Linked DNA regions of Homo sapiens. The protein of the gene in region 1 purifies or fractionates together with the protein of each later gene. This does not show direct contact. Each region holds a gene or a part of one and is shown in the gene's direction. Other genes may lie near its edges. The genes, in order: RORC, USP19 and GLB1.

Evidence for each region.
Region 2: the proteins of RORC (region 1) and USP19 purify together in Homo sapiens (affinity purification with western blotting, with the first as the bait; one study listed by BioGRID). This does not show direct contact.
Region 3: the proteins of RORC (region 1) and GLB1 purify together in Homo sapiens (affinity purification with mass spectrometry; 2 studies listed by BioGRID and IntAct, with this or other methods). This does not show direct contact.

What each region holds. Positions count from the first base shown.
Region 1 is NC_000001.11:151,818,238-151,821,884, reverse strand, and holds part of RORC (nuclear receptor ROR-gamma), read left to right. Parts: intron 1-3,647. UniProt on the Homo sapiens protein: Nuclear receptor that binds DNA as a monomer to ROR response elements (RORE) containing a single core motif half-site 5'-AGGTCA-3' preceded by a short A-T-rich sequence.
Region 2 is NC_000003.12:49,114,285-49,117,931, reverse strand, and holds part of USP19 (ubiquitin carboxyl-terminal hydrolase 19), read left to right. Parts: intron 1-101; coding exon 102-275; intron 276-361; coding exon 362-495; intron 496-570; coding exon 571-873; intron 874-988; coding exon 989-1,205; coding exon of another isoform or gene 1,206-1,211; intron 1,212-1,324; coding exon 1,325-1,481; intron 1,482-1,580; coding exon 1,581-1,652; intron 1,653-1,769; coding exon 1,770-1,885; intron 1,886-1,987; coding exon 1,988-2,208; intron 2,209-2,292; coding exon 2,293-2,488; intron 2,489-2,570; coding exon 2,571-2,704; intron 2,705-2,814; coding exon 2,815-2,973; intron 2,974-3,058; coding exon 3,059-3,169; intron 3,170-3,647. UniProt on the Homo sapiens protein: Deubiquitinating enzyme that regulates the degradation of various proteins by removing ubiquitin moieties, thereby preventing their proteasomal degradation. Stabilizes RNF123, which promotes CDKN1B degradation and contributes to cell proliferation.
Region 3 is NC_000003.12:32,996,069-32,999,715, reverse strand, and holds the end of GLB1 (beta-galactosidase isoform a preproprotein), read left to right. Parts: intron 1-2,371; coding exon 2,372-2,671; 3' UTR 2,672-3,099; downstream 3,100-3,647.

The sequences.
Region 1 (3,647 bases):
TAATATCTCTTGGGATCTTTATACAAACAGGAGTCCTGGCTTTAGTTCTGTGGGTTTCCTCTGTGAATTCTGTTCCTAGACCACCACAATCACCTCACACTTTTACCCCTACAGCCAAATAACCATGTCCTCTACCCAGGTCTCCGGTGTGCATTTGGGCGTCTTATCCTCATAAAGTATATAGCTTAAGGCTTGAGGGCACTGGCTGCAGAATTACAGAGATCTAGGTTCAAATGCCAGATCTGCCACTTCTGGCTGTGTGACCTTAGTCAAGCTGTTTATTCTCTCTAGGCCTCAGTTTTCTCATCTGTAAGATGAGGATGATACTAGCAGGGCCTATTTCACAGGGTGGTTGTGATCATTGAATGAAAATGCATGTAAAGCCTGGCACAGAGTAAGAATTCAGCCAATGCTTATGTCTATCATTATCCTTTCTCCTTAATCAGTATCCACTGGAGAAAAAGGAGAGAGAAAGAGGAGAGGAAAAGGCCCAGCTCTAGATTGACGAGGCACCAGGAGGAGATGAGGACCCCGGGGTTTCTCTGTGTGAACCCATTCTCTACCATGATGGTGGGGGGGTGGTGGTTCTGGGGTTTGAGAGGAGAGATCCCCCTGGGTTGCAGCCCCTCCCCTGCTCCTACCACTTCCTCTCTGTGGCATAGGGCACCTGGACAGGGCCCAGGGTTGGCTTCCTAAGCTGGCACAGGGCCAGGCTCTGGAAGTACTCAAAGCACTATCATTGAATCTCACAGCTGTGAGAGGCTCGATTAGAGGAGGATGGAGGACTTTGCCTCTACCGTATTTCCCCTCATAGGAGGAGCTACTAGGATGCTCCTGGGGGTACTTCAGTCTCTAAAGCAATTCAGAGGAGATTCAGTTTCTTTTTCTAGTATTGTCTCAGAATGAAGTCTTAGAGGTCACACTGGATGGCAGAAAAGATGCAAGAATGAGCTCAGGAAAAGATCGCCAACCCCAGCCCCACTCCCTGGAAGGAGCAGCCTGGCAAAAAGGCAGGAATAGGGACTAAGTTCTTGCTACTCAAAGTATAAGCTGAAGACCAGTAAGCTTAGGCACCAACTAAGAGCTGACCAAAGTGCAGAATCTTGAGTCCCACCTCAGATCCCCAGGTAATCTTGTTTGAGATGCAGAAAGCCATAGTCATTCAGTCATTAGATGACTTAAGGAGCTGGCGGGTGCATTTGGGCATTTGTCTCTCCTTTTGGAAGATGTGGAATTGGAGTTTTCTTTTGGAGAAAGCTCTCTCTCAGGAGAGAGCTACAGTGAGAGAGCTGCAGGTGAGATGCAAAGATCTTTCCAAGACAGCAGGCGAGGGTAGAGTTAGGGCTGCCATGGGAGCAGTGGTGCAGGGGCTGGTTCGAGGTTCCTGACCTTTGCTTGGCTCTAGTTCCTGGCACTGGCAGGCCCTTAGATGGTAAGTTCCTGGCAGGCCTGGCTCCAGGGCAACAGTTTGAGTAATCCTGTGATTACTCAGCTCCTTCTCCCCAATCTGAGTTCCCACCACCTGCTGCTTCAGGGACGTGTCTCCCAGGGGTAGCTTTTGAAGGTGAGTTATCATCAGAGGTGTTTTCAGCTCCTCTCACCAACCCCCAAGTCTACCAGCCCCCTTCCCGTTCTCCCCCACCCCTTCTCTACAAGTAACACACACCCTCATGTACACAGCACTGGTACTTTCTTTCTGAGGTTTGGGTGGATGGCATTGAAGGGAGTGCAGGTGGCAGGGGAAGGAGGGGGGAGCAGGACTAGAGGGCCTGAAGTGCTGAGGGGGCCATGGGTTGGGCAAAGGCCAGGATACAAGCGTGGATTTTCTGTGTTTCAGTGTTTCCGCAGCCGTCTCTCCATCCCTAGATCTATGTCTCTGTTTTTCCTGGACCCAAACCTCTTGGTCTCTCCAGCTCAGTGAGGCTAGGGGGTCTGACATTCTAGCTCAGAGTCTTTGGCCTTGTGTGTCTGTCTCACTGGGTACTTCTGTCTTGGACTGGGAGGATGGAGGATGGGCTGACCAGGTGGCTGGAGTCCAAGGCTTTGGTGTCGCCCAAACATGGGTATTTGCGAAGGGGGTCCTTGACTGGCCGCATCTTCCTATGAGAAGGTCAAGGTCTTGGTGACACTGTTGTGAGGTTCCTAGGGCCAGGAGAAGCAGTGGGTCAAGCATGGGGCAGGGAGATGTGTCTGGGGTCACCATGTGGTCAGCACACACACGCACGCGGATGTGGCTCTTGGAGAAGGGAAGAGGCAGGGAGGCCTGTGGTTGACTGCTGGGCCAGAGCCCGAGTTCCCACTGCGGCTTGGCCTAATCTCCCTCCCGCTTACTTTTTTGGGTGGCCCACGTTGGTTTCTCCCATCTCTGGTCTTAGGCCACTGAAAAGAGAGATGCCACAGTGTTGGAGGGGGAGGTGTTGGGCAAGAACAGAGTCCACAGGGCCCGAGTGCTCCTCTCAGCCTTGCCAGGCCCACTGGTCTTCTCAGCCTGACCTCTGCTCAGGAGTAACTTGAATACACAGTGCTTTCCATTGGTGATATCATTTCATTACTCTCTGTTACCTACAATCACCCCATGGACAGGCAATAATACTTTTATCCTGATCTTGCTGACAAGAAAACGTAGGTCTAGAGGGAGAATCTAAGTGACTAGAAGTATGGGGGCCCCAACGTTTTCTGCCCCTGTTCCAGACACCCAGTGCCCTCTTATTCTCTCTTCCCCTCCATGTATTAAAATCTGCTCTTAATTTACTGGAAAGAACCTGGAAAACTCACTTACCGCCTGGTCCTGGGGGGACCACAGCTTACAGTGTGAGCACTGGAAGCTTGCTGCTGGGCAGGCACGTGTGGCTGGGGGTTGGGTGAGGAATTGAGTGCTAATGAAGGGATTTCAGATACCCATGTGCCCTGTCCCCGTCAGGGTCAGCTACTGCCTCTGACTCACCTCAAGTCTGGCCTGAGGGATGATGGTTTAAGAATGATGGAAATAATATTTTGGGGAATGGCGGGCAAGCCATGGTCTCCCTGCCCACTTCACATCAACAGGCCCTACATGTGACCAGTGTCCAGGCCAGGGACTGGAGGTGAGATCACAGCAATGTGCATTCGCCCTCCAGAGAGGCTGCCACTTCTTTTGCCCCTTTGGTGGGAGACACGTCATAGATTAAAAGGGGCTTTGGCCCTTCTCTTCACTTTTCTGGCCTGTCCCGCCCCAGGGCTCCCCACTCAGAGGGGAGGCAGCAGGTCAGTGATGGTGGAAAAGAGACCCATGTGCTCTGGGAAATGCTAAAAACACCTACAGTAACCAGGGATCCCAAGCTTTGCCCAGCTACCTTTCAAGGAAGAGCTGGGAGAAGGCCTCCTGTGGTCCCATGAAGCTCAGCAGAGAGTCGTGGGCATTGACAGGAACAGGGCAAAGCAGAGATGAGCTTAGGGCCAGCAGCAAACCACAGGGGTAGGGAAGCAGGTACAGGTTACAGTGAGTTCAGTGGGAGAGAGAACCCGGGGTCCTAGTGCCCCATGAGCAGACACTAACATACAAATATGCACGTGTGGACGCAGGAGCAACCAGATATGTCGTAGGCTCACAAATGACACATACTTTTCTTGCATATGCACACCCACAAGCACACCTTCAAACATGCCCA
Region 2 (3,647 bases), on another chromosome or scaffold:
GCTTTTTGTTGCTAGGGAAGGGGAGGGGGCACTTGCAATTTGGCTCCCATCTGAAGCAGTTTCATTAGGCTGGGTCTCTGTTACCTGCTTATCACCATCAGGAGCTTGTGAAGACCCTCATGATCTCTTGGCTACTCCCACTCCAGAGTTGTTGCTCGATTGGAGGCAGAGTGCAGAAGAGGTGATTGTCAAGCTTCGTGTGGGAGTAGGTCCCCTGCAGCTGGAGGATGTAGATGCTGCTTTCACAGATACAGACTGTGTGGTGCGGTTTGCAGGTGTGTCCATCTGCCCTGAGCACAGTAGTATGTTTGAATCTTCTGATATCTCCTATCCTACCTCATGGACCCTGCTCTGTCCCCAGGTGGTCAGCAGTGGGGTGGTGTCTTCTATGCTGAGATAAAAAGCTCTTGTGCTAAAGTGCAAACCCGCAAGGGCAGTCTCCTGCACCTGACACTGCCCAAAAAGGTGCCTATGCTCACGTGGCCCTCCCTCCTGGTGAGTTCTAGTAGTACAGGGTTGGGTAGGGATACCAGTGTAGTCGACAGGGCCTGACTGCTGTATCTTTGGCAGAAGAAACCTCTAGGGACCCAGGAGCTGGTGCCGGGGCTGCGGTGCCAGGAGAATGGGCAGGAACTGTCTCCCATTGCCCTGGAGCCAGGCCCTGAGCCCCACCGGGCTAAGCAGGAGGCCCGGAACCAGAAGCGGGCCCAGGGCCGTGGTGAGGTAGGCGCAGGGGCTGGCCCCGGGGCCCAGGCAGGGCCCAGCGCCAAGAGGGCTGTGCATCTCTGCAGAGGGCCAGAGGGGGACGGGTCCAGGGATGACCCTGGACCCCGGGGTGATGCCCCACCCTTCGTGGCTGACCCAGCCACCCAGGTGAGAGCTGGGCACCTGTTTGGGTGTTAGGAGATGGGGGGAAAGGGTGTGCACTGGAGTGGGAGCCACCTGGCAGACCCAGGGCTGATTCTTTCCACAATCTTGCCATTAATAGGTTGAGGCTGATGAACAGCTTTGCATACCACCGCTGAACTCCCAAACCTGCCTCCTGGGCTCAGAGGAGAATTTAGCCCCTTTGGCAGGAGAGAAAGCAGTGCCTCCCGGGAATGACCCAGTCTCTCCAGCCATGGTCCGGAGCAGAAACCCTGGGAAAGATGACTGTGCCAAGGAGGAGATGGCAGTGGCAGCAGATGCTGCAACCTTGGTGGATGGTAAAGGTGGGGGTGGGCAGGCAGAGCCCTAGGTTGGGTTGCAAAGTTTGTAGGTGGATAGAGAGTAGCAATAGGCTGGAACCTGTCCTGGTTGGGGCTGAGCCATGGTCTCAATATAGAGCCCGAGTCGATGGTGAACCTGGCGTTTGTCAAGAATGACTCGTATGAGAAGGGCCCGGATTCAGTGGTGGTGCACGTGTACGTGAAGGAGATCTGCAGGGACACCTCAAGAGTACTTTTCCGTGAGCAGGACTTCACGCTCATCTTCCAGACCAGGTGGGTGGGTAGATGATGGGGCAAACAATGCCTCAGGTGGGACAGTATGTCTCATGCTCTTCCTCTTGTCCTTCCTCCTATCCTGCTGTGCCTCTGCAGGGATGGAAACTTCCTGAGGCTGCACCCGGGCTGTGGGCCCCACACCACCTTCCGTTGGCAGGTGAAGCTCAGGTGGGTGGTGCCCGGCCCCACCACTGTGCCTGTCCTACCCCGTGGGCTCCATCTCCCTGGCTCATCTATCCTGATGCTCATTCCTCCTAAGTCCCTGAGTTCAGCCTTTTCCCACAGGAATCTGATTGAGCCAGAGCAGTGCACCTTCTGTTTCACGGCTTCTCGCATCGACATCTGCCTTCGTAAGAGGCAGAGTCAGCGCTGGGGGGGCCTGGAGGCCCCGGCTGCACGAGGTCTGCACACGAGCTCCCTTCATTGCCCAGTTCCACGTGACCAGGACCCAAACCCCTGTCACATGCTGCTAACCACCAGCCCTCTCATTCCCCCTTTTTAAGGTGCAGTGGGTGGTGCAAAGGTTGCCGTGCCGACAGGTCCAACCCCTCTGGATTCAACCCCACCAGGAGGTGCTCCCCACCCCCTGACAGGCCAGGAGGAGGCCCGGGCTGTGGAGAAGGATAAATCCAAGGCACGATCTGAGGACACAGGGCTAGACAGTGTGGCAACCCGCACACCCATGGAGCATGTAACCCCAAAGCCAGAGACACACCTGGCCTCGGTGAGAATTCTGGGGTGGGAAGGACGAAGAATGGAGGCTGGAGAGTCTTGGGGCTGTTCTCTCATGTCGTCTTTGCTCCTGCAGCCCAAGCCTACATGCATGGTGCCTCCCATGCCCCACAGCCCAGTTAGTGGAGACAGCGTGGAGGAGGAGGAAGAGGAAGAGAAGAAGGTGTGTCTGCCAGGCTTCACTGGCCTTGTCAATTTAGGCAACACCTGCTTCATGAACAGCGTCATTCAGTCTCTGTCCAACACTCGGGAACTCCGGGACTTCTTCCATGGTGAGGGCAGGGCCTGGAGCCTGGGTTATGGGCAGAGAGAGTGCCTTTGTTCCTCACACCTTTGCTCGGCTACTATTCCTAGACCGCTCCTTTGAGGCTGAGATCAACTACAACAACCCACTAGGGACTGGTGGGCGTCTGGCCATTGGCTTTGCCGTGCTGCTTCGGGCGCTGTGGAAGGGCACCCACCATGCCTTCCAGCCTTCCAAGTTGAAGGTGATCTGTGACCACTGTCACCCTTGGCTGGAGGGGGCGGGGAGGGCCAGCCAGCTGGGTGTGCAGTGGGTGCTAGGGCTTCATGTTCACACCTTGGCTCCTGTATCCAGGCCATTGTGGCGAGTAAGGCCAGCCAGTTCACAGGCTATGCACAGCATGATGCCCAGGAGTTCATGGCTTTCCTGCTGGATGGGCTGCACGAGGACCTGAATCGCATTCAGAACAAGCCCTACACAGAGACCGTGGATTCAGATGGGCGGCCCGATGAGGTCAGGGTTAGGGACAGAGGGTGGGCATGTCTCATGAGCATCCCAGCCCCTGGTACTCTTTGGTTCTCACCACTCTGCCTCTCAGGTGGTAGCTGAGGAAGCATGGCAGCGGCACAAGATGAGGAATGACTCTTTCATCGTGGACCTATTTCAGGGGCAGTACAAGTCGAAGCTGGTGTGCCCTGTGTGTGCCAAGGTGTGATGGGCTCCCCTGGAAAGAGACCCCCTAGTTCAGCTCAGCTATTCTGGTCACATTAGGTTCAGAGGCATGTGCATCTTAAGGTGCTACAGGGCAAGGTTTGGGCAAAGAAGCTGGCAGGGAGGCCTTAGGATTCTATTTGGGCTGAAGAGCCCACTCAGGGTAGGCTTCCTGACTGAGGGAAAAGTGATGTTAGAGCTCAAAGGTGTTGTAGCAGGGTTGTGGGCACATGGGGTGCAAGTGTGAGGCCAATTCGTAAAGTGGCTAAGCTGAGTAGGGCTTTGAGTGCCAGAAAGAAGGATTGTTATTTCCTGGTGGTCCTCCTGCCCTGTCTAGTGTCCTGAAGCCTGAGAGTTTGCTGGTTGGCTGTGGGGGCCCTGAGAGCCATCAGAAGCCCCGGAATGGGCTCTCTGAGCATGAGCATCTTATCTCCCACTCTGTGTGCAGCTACCCAGTGCCACCTCTACATCCACAG
Region 3 (3,647 bases), on another chromosome or scaffold:
CCAGGATTGCACCACTGCACGATAACCTCCCCAGAGCAATGGCTGCTGCTTCTCTCCACCCTCCCAATCTCAAGCAAGGGCCTCTTCTGACCAACGCTAACCCAGAACCATCCAGGGAAGGGGATCCAGGGAAAACAATTCCCAGCTTACCTACCAGGTGCACAGTCCACCCGGCATGTGAGGGCCCATCTCTTGGATGCTTATGAAATGGAACTTGAGGTTTGAGAAAGGACCAAACCTCCACTTTGTTCACCTGCGATTTGGTCAAGAGTTGGCTTGGCCTGTGTCCTGACCATAGCATGAAGCCTGTGTGGTGCGTGCCATTCCTTGGCTGCTGCTCGTAATGCCCTCCCACTTCTCTGTCTTCCCCCTTGACCGCAAAAGTAAAGTGCTACTGTTCTCTAATACTGCAAAAACAAGGCACCGGCAGATTTTAAGCTGATAAAAACCTGCTAAAGCTGTCATTGTATATACCTTTTAGGATGGAATGAGATAACATATCCCAGGGTAAAAACAAGAGTGAAATAGTTCTGAGAACTGTGAAACTGTCGTCCTCTTTCTAAATGACTTAATCCAACAGACAGGTGGTTTTTAATCACGGACCCCCTTCTTTTGTAGGCATTGGAACACCAACATCTTTTCACTTTAATCATGTAAGGAGTGCTACCGCTTACAGGCCACACACTGTTCCTTCATCATCATTGTCCCCAATGACTGGTATGAAAAATTGAGTTGAGACCTGCCCAAGGTCAGACAGCTAGTAAGTGGCAGGACACAGATACGAACTCAGGTAGGAAATTCAGAAGGATCTAAAGTAAAGGGGACACTTGGAGGCTGAAAAATACCCAAACGTAAGAAGACTGAGGAGCCCTGGGGTGAGCAGCAGAGTTGTGTTGCAGAACGTGATGAGGATTAGGGCTCAGCAGGTGTCAGCCATGGCTGGGCCTCCTCCAGGCTGTCTCCTAGGATATCTGGGCCATTGTAGGTCACAGTTTCTTTCCTGCCTCCCTCCCTTCTTCCATTCCTCTTTCCTCTTCCTTCTCCCTTTATGTTTTCCTTTCTTCTCCCAGATTTTCTCTTTCTTTTGCGTGTATGTGATCTCCCCATCTTCACTTTCTTTCTTTGTAATAGAATGGTCCATCTATTCAGCCAGCTGTTGATCCTAGCCTTTGAGCTTTGAGCAAATCTTTTTTTTTTTTTTTTGAGACGGAGTCTTGCTCTGTCACTGCGCAAGGCTAGAGTGCAGTGGCGCAATCTCAGCTCACTGCAACCTCTGCCTCCCTGGGTTCAAGTGATTCTCTTGCCTCAGCCTCCTGAGTAACTGGGATTACAGGCATGTGCCACCACACCTGGCTAATTTTTGTATTTTTAGTAGAGACGGGGTTTCACCATGTTGGCCAGGCTGGTCTCGAACTCCTGACCTCAGGTGATCTGCCTGCCTTGGCCTCCCAAAGTTCTGGGATTACAGGCATGAGCCACTGCACTCAGCCCCTTTGAGCAAATTTTAGCACATACAGAGAGGCTGTGTAGACAGACCTAAACATGGTCCCTGTTTTTTAGGAGTTTATCCTCCACTTTCAGTTTTGTTATGGGAAGCAGCTTCCCCTACTCACAGAAATTGTTTATGCAACCTATAGCATCACCTCTGCTCCTGAACCAAACATGGAGTCCACACCCTAACTCTGAGGGTGCCTGTAAGAGTCCTTAGAACATAGCAGTAATATAGACACCCAACTGGATAAGCCTCTTCCTCTCCCTCACCCCAAACCCCCCTATCCCTCTTGAGGGGTTGTTTTGGGGACCACTCCTGGTACCTGTCTGACCTCAGGATGCAGGCCCTGGAGTCCTCTGTTCCCTGTGTTCACCAGGTGTACAGCAGATAGTGAGGTCAAGACCTGCCTCTGGGAAAGGAGAACAAAGAAGGAAAAGATCTATTTAAGGAAGCAGTTCAGCAGTTGTCTTCTGTGTACAGAAAAGTCAGGGAGAGGCTGGTCTGTGGGTACAGGCAGCACCTGGGAACCAGGATGAAATTCAGAAATTTCCACACTGTTCTCTGGTACCAACATCTGTGGCCACTGAAGCCCGTCAGAGGGACCAAACCTGTATTTTCCTGAAGCAGGAGTGGGTCTTTGGGGCAAGTTTTTGTTGCCCCAAAGAAGGTGGATGGGGGCATCCACCTTCTTCCCACCTTGGCCAGTTATCCCAGCAAGAAGCTAAAACCAAGGCTGGCATGGGCCTGGCTGTCAGCCTCGCCTTTCTGGGGGCATTTCTTTCCTCCATTGCTGCTGGCCTGCCCTACATCAGGGCCCCCACCTTCCTCAGGGCTTTCGGTGCATCTGGGGTTGATGGTTCTCTGTCTCTCTCTCTCCAGGGCCAGGTCTGGATTAATGGCTTTAACCTTGGCCGCTATTGGCCAGCCCGGGGCCCTCAGTTGACCTTGTTTGTGCCCCAGCACATCCTGATGACCTCGGCCCCAAACACCATCACCGTGCTGGAACTGGAGTGGGCACCCTGCAGCAGTGATGATCCAGAACTATGTGCTGTGACGTTCGTGGACAGGCCAGTTATTGGCTCATCTGTGACCTACGATCATCCCTCCAAACCTGTTGAAAAAAGACTCATGCCCCCACCCCCGCAAAAAAACAAAGATTCATGGCTGGACCATGTATGATGATGAAAGCCTGTGTCTTTGAGGGATTCTACCCTGAACATACCTCACAGATCCTCCCTGTCATGCCACATTTCACTGATTGGAATGTGGAAATGGAAAAGGAATTTAGGATGTGCATTTTCACCTGAGGTTTCCCTGCATCCCTGCAGTGCCAAAGCCCCACCTTCAGGGACCACCTGGAATGTGTGAGGGGCTGACAGCACAGTAACGTGCATACATATCTGCAGGGCTGGAATGGAAGCTTTAAAGGTGGTAGTGATTTTTATTTTGGAAGAATCATGTTACCTTTTTGTTAAATAAAATTTGTACTCAAATGATGATGTCACTGTTTTTAATGTGCAGGTATTGAATTATATGGTCTGACTTAAATCATAACTAGACTTGAGTGGGCTGAATAAACCACTTCACTAACTTGAAGTTCAAAAGGATGGAAAATAGTCTTGGTTTGATCTGTGGACTGCTGCTTTTCTGATCGTTATTTGACTTGCTTTTGGACTAGATAACCTATAAATACAGCTCAAAACAATTATGCAAACAATCTAAATGATTAACAGTTGCACAGTGTACATAGTATGGTATATCTATATAGAAGCATAGTATTTTAGCCACTAAAATGGTGAGAGATCTATACTTATATGCAAATTTTTTGATACATGAAAAAACAGATTACCTTAAATTGGATCCCGTTTTGTGTGTTTCAACATAAGAACTTCACATATTCACACAGTACAGGCCTATACACATGTCAGTAGTCAGGCATGCACGTGTGTGTGTGCTGTGTATGTGCACAGATAGGAAAGGATGTGGTGTTTCTGATATTCCTGTCCTGACATGGAGCAGTAGCTCTCATTTGTTGAGGACTTGTTCTACACCATGCACAGTTCTGAGTTTATGTTTAACTCACTTGCCCCTCACAAGAACACTGAGGAATATACTGTCATCCTGCCGGTTTACCAGATCTCACAGATGTATGTGG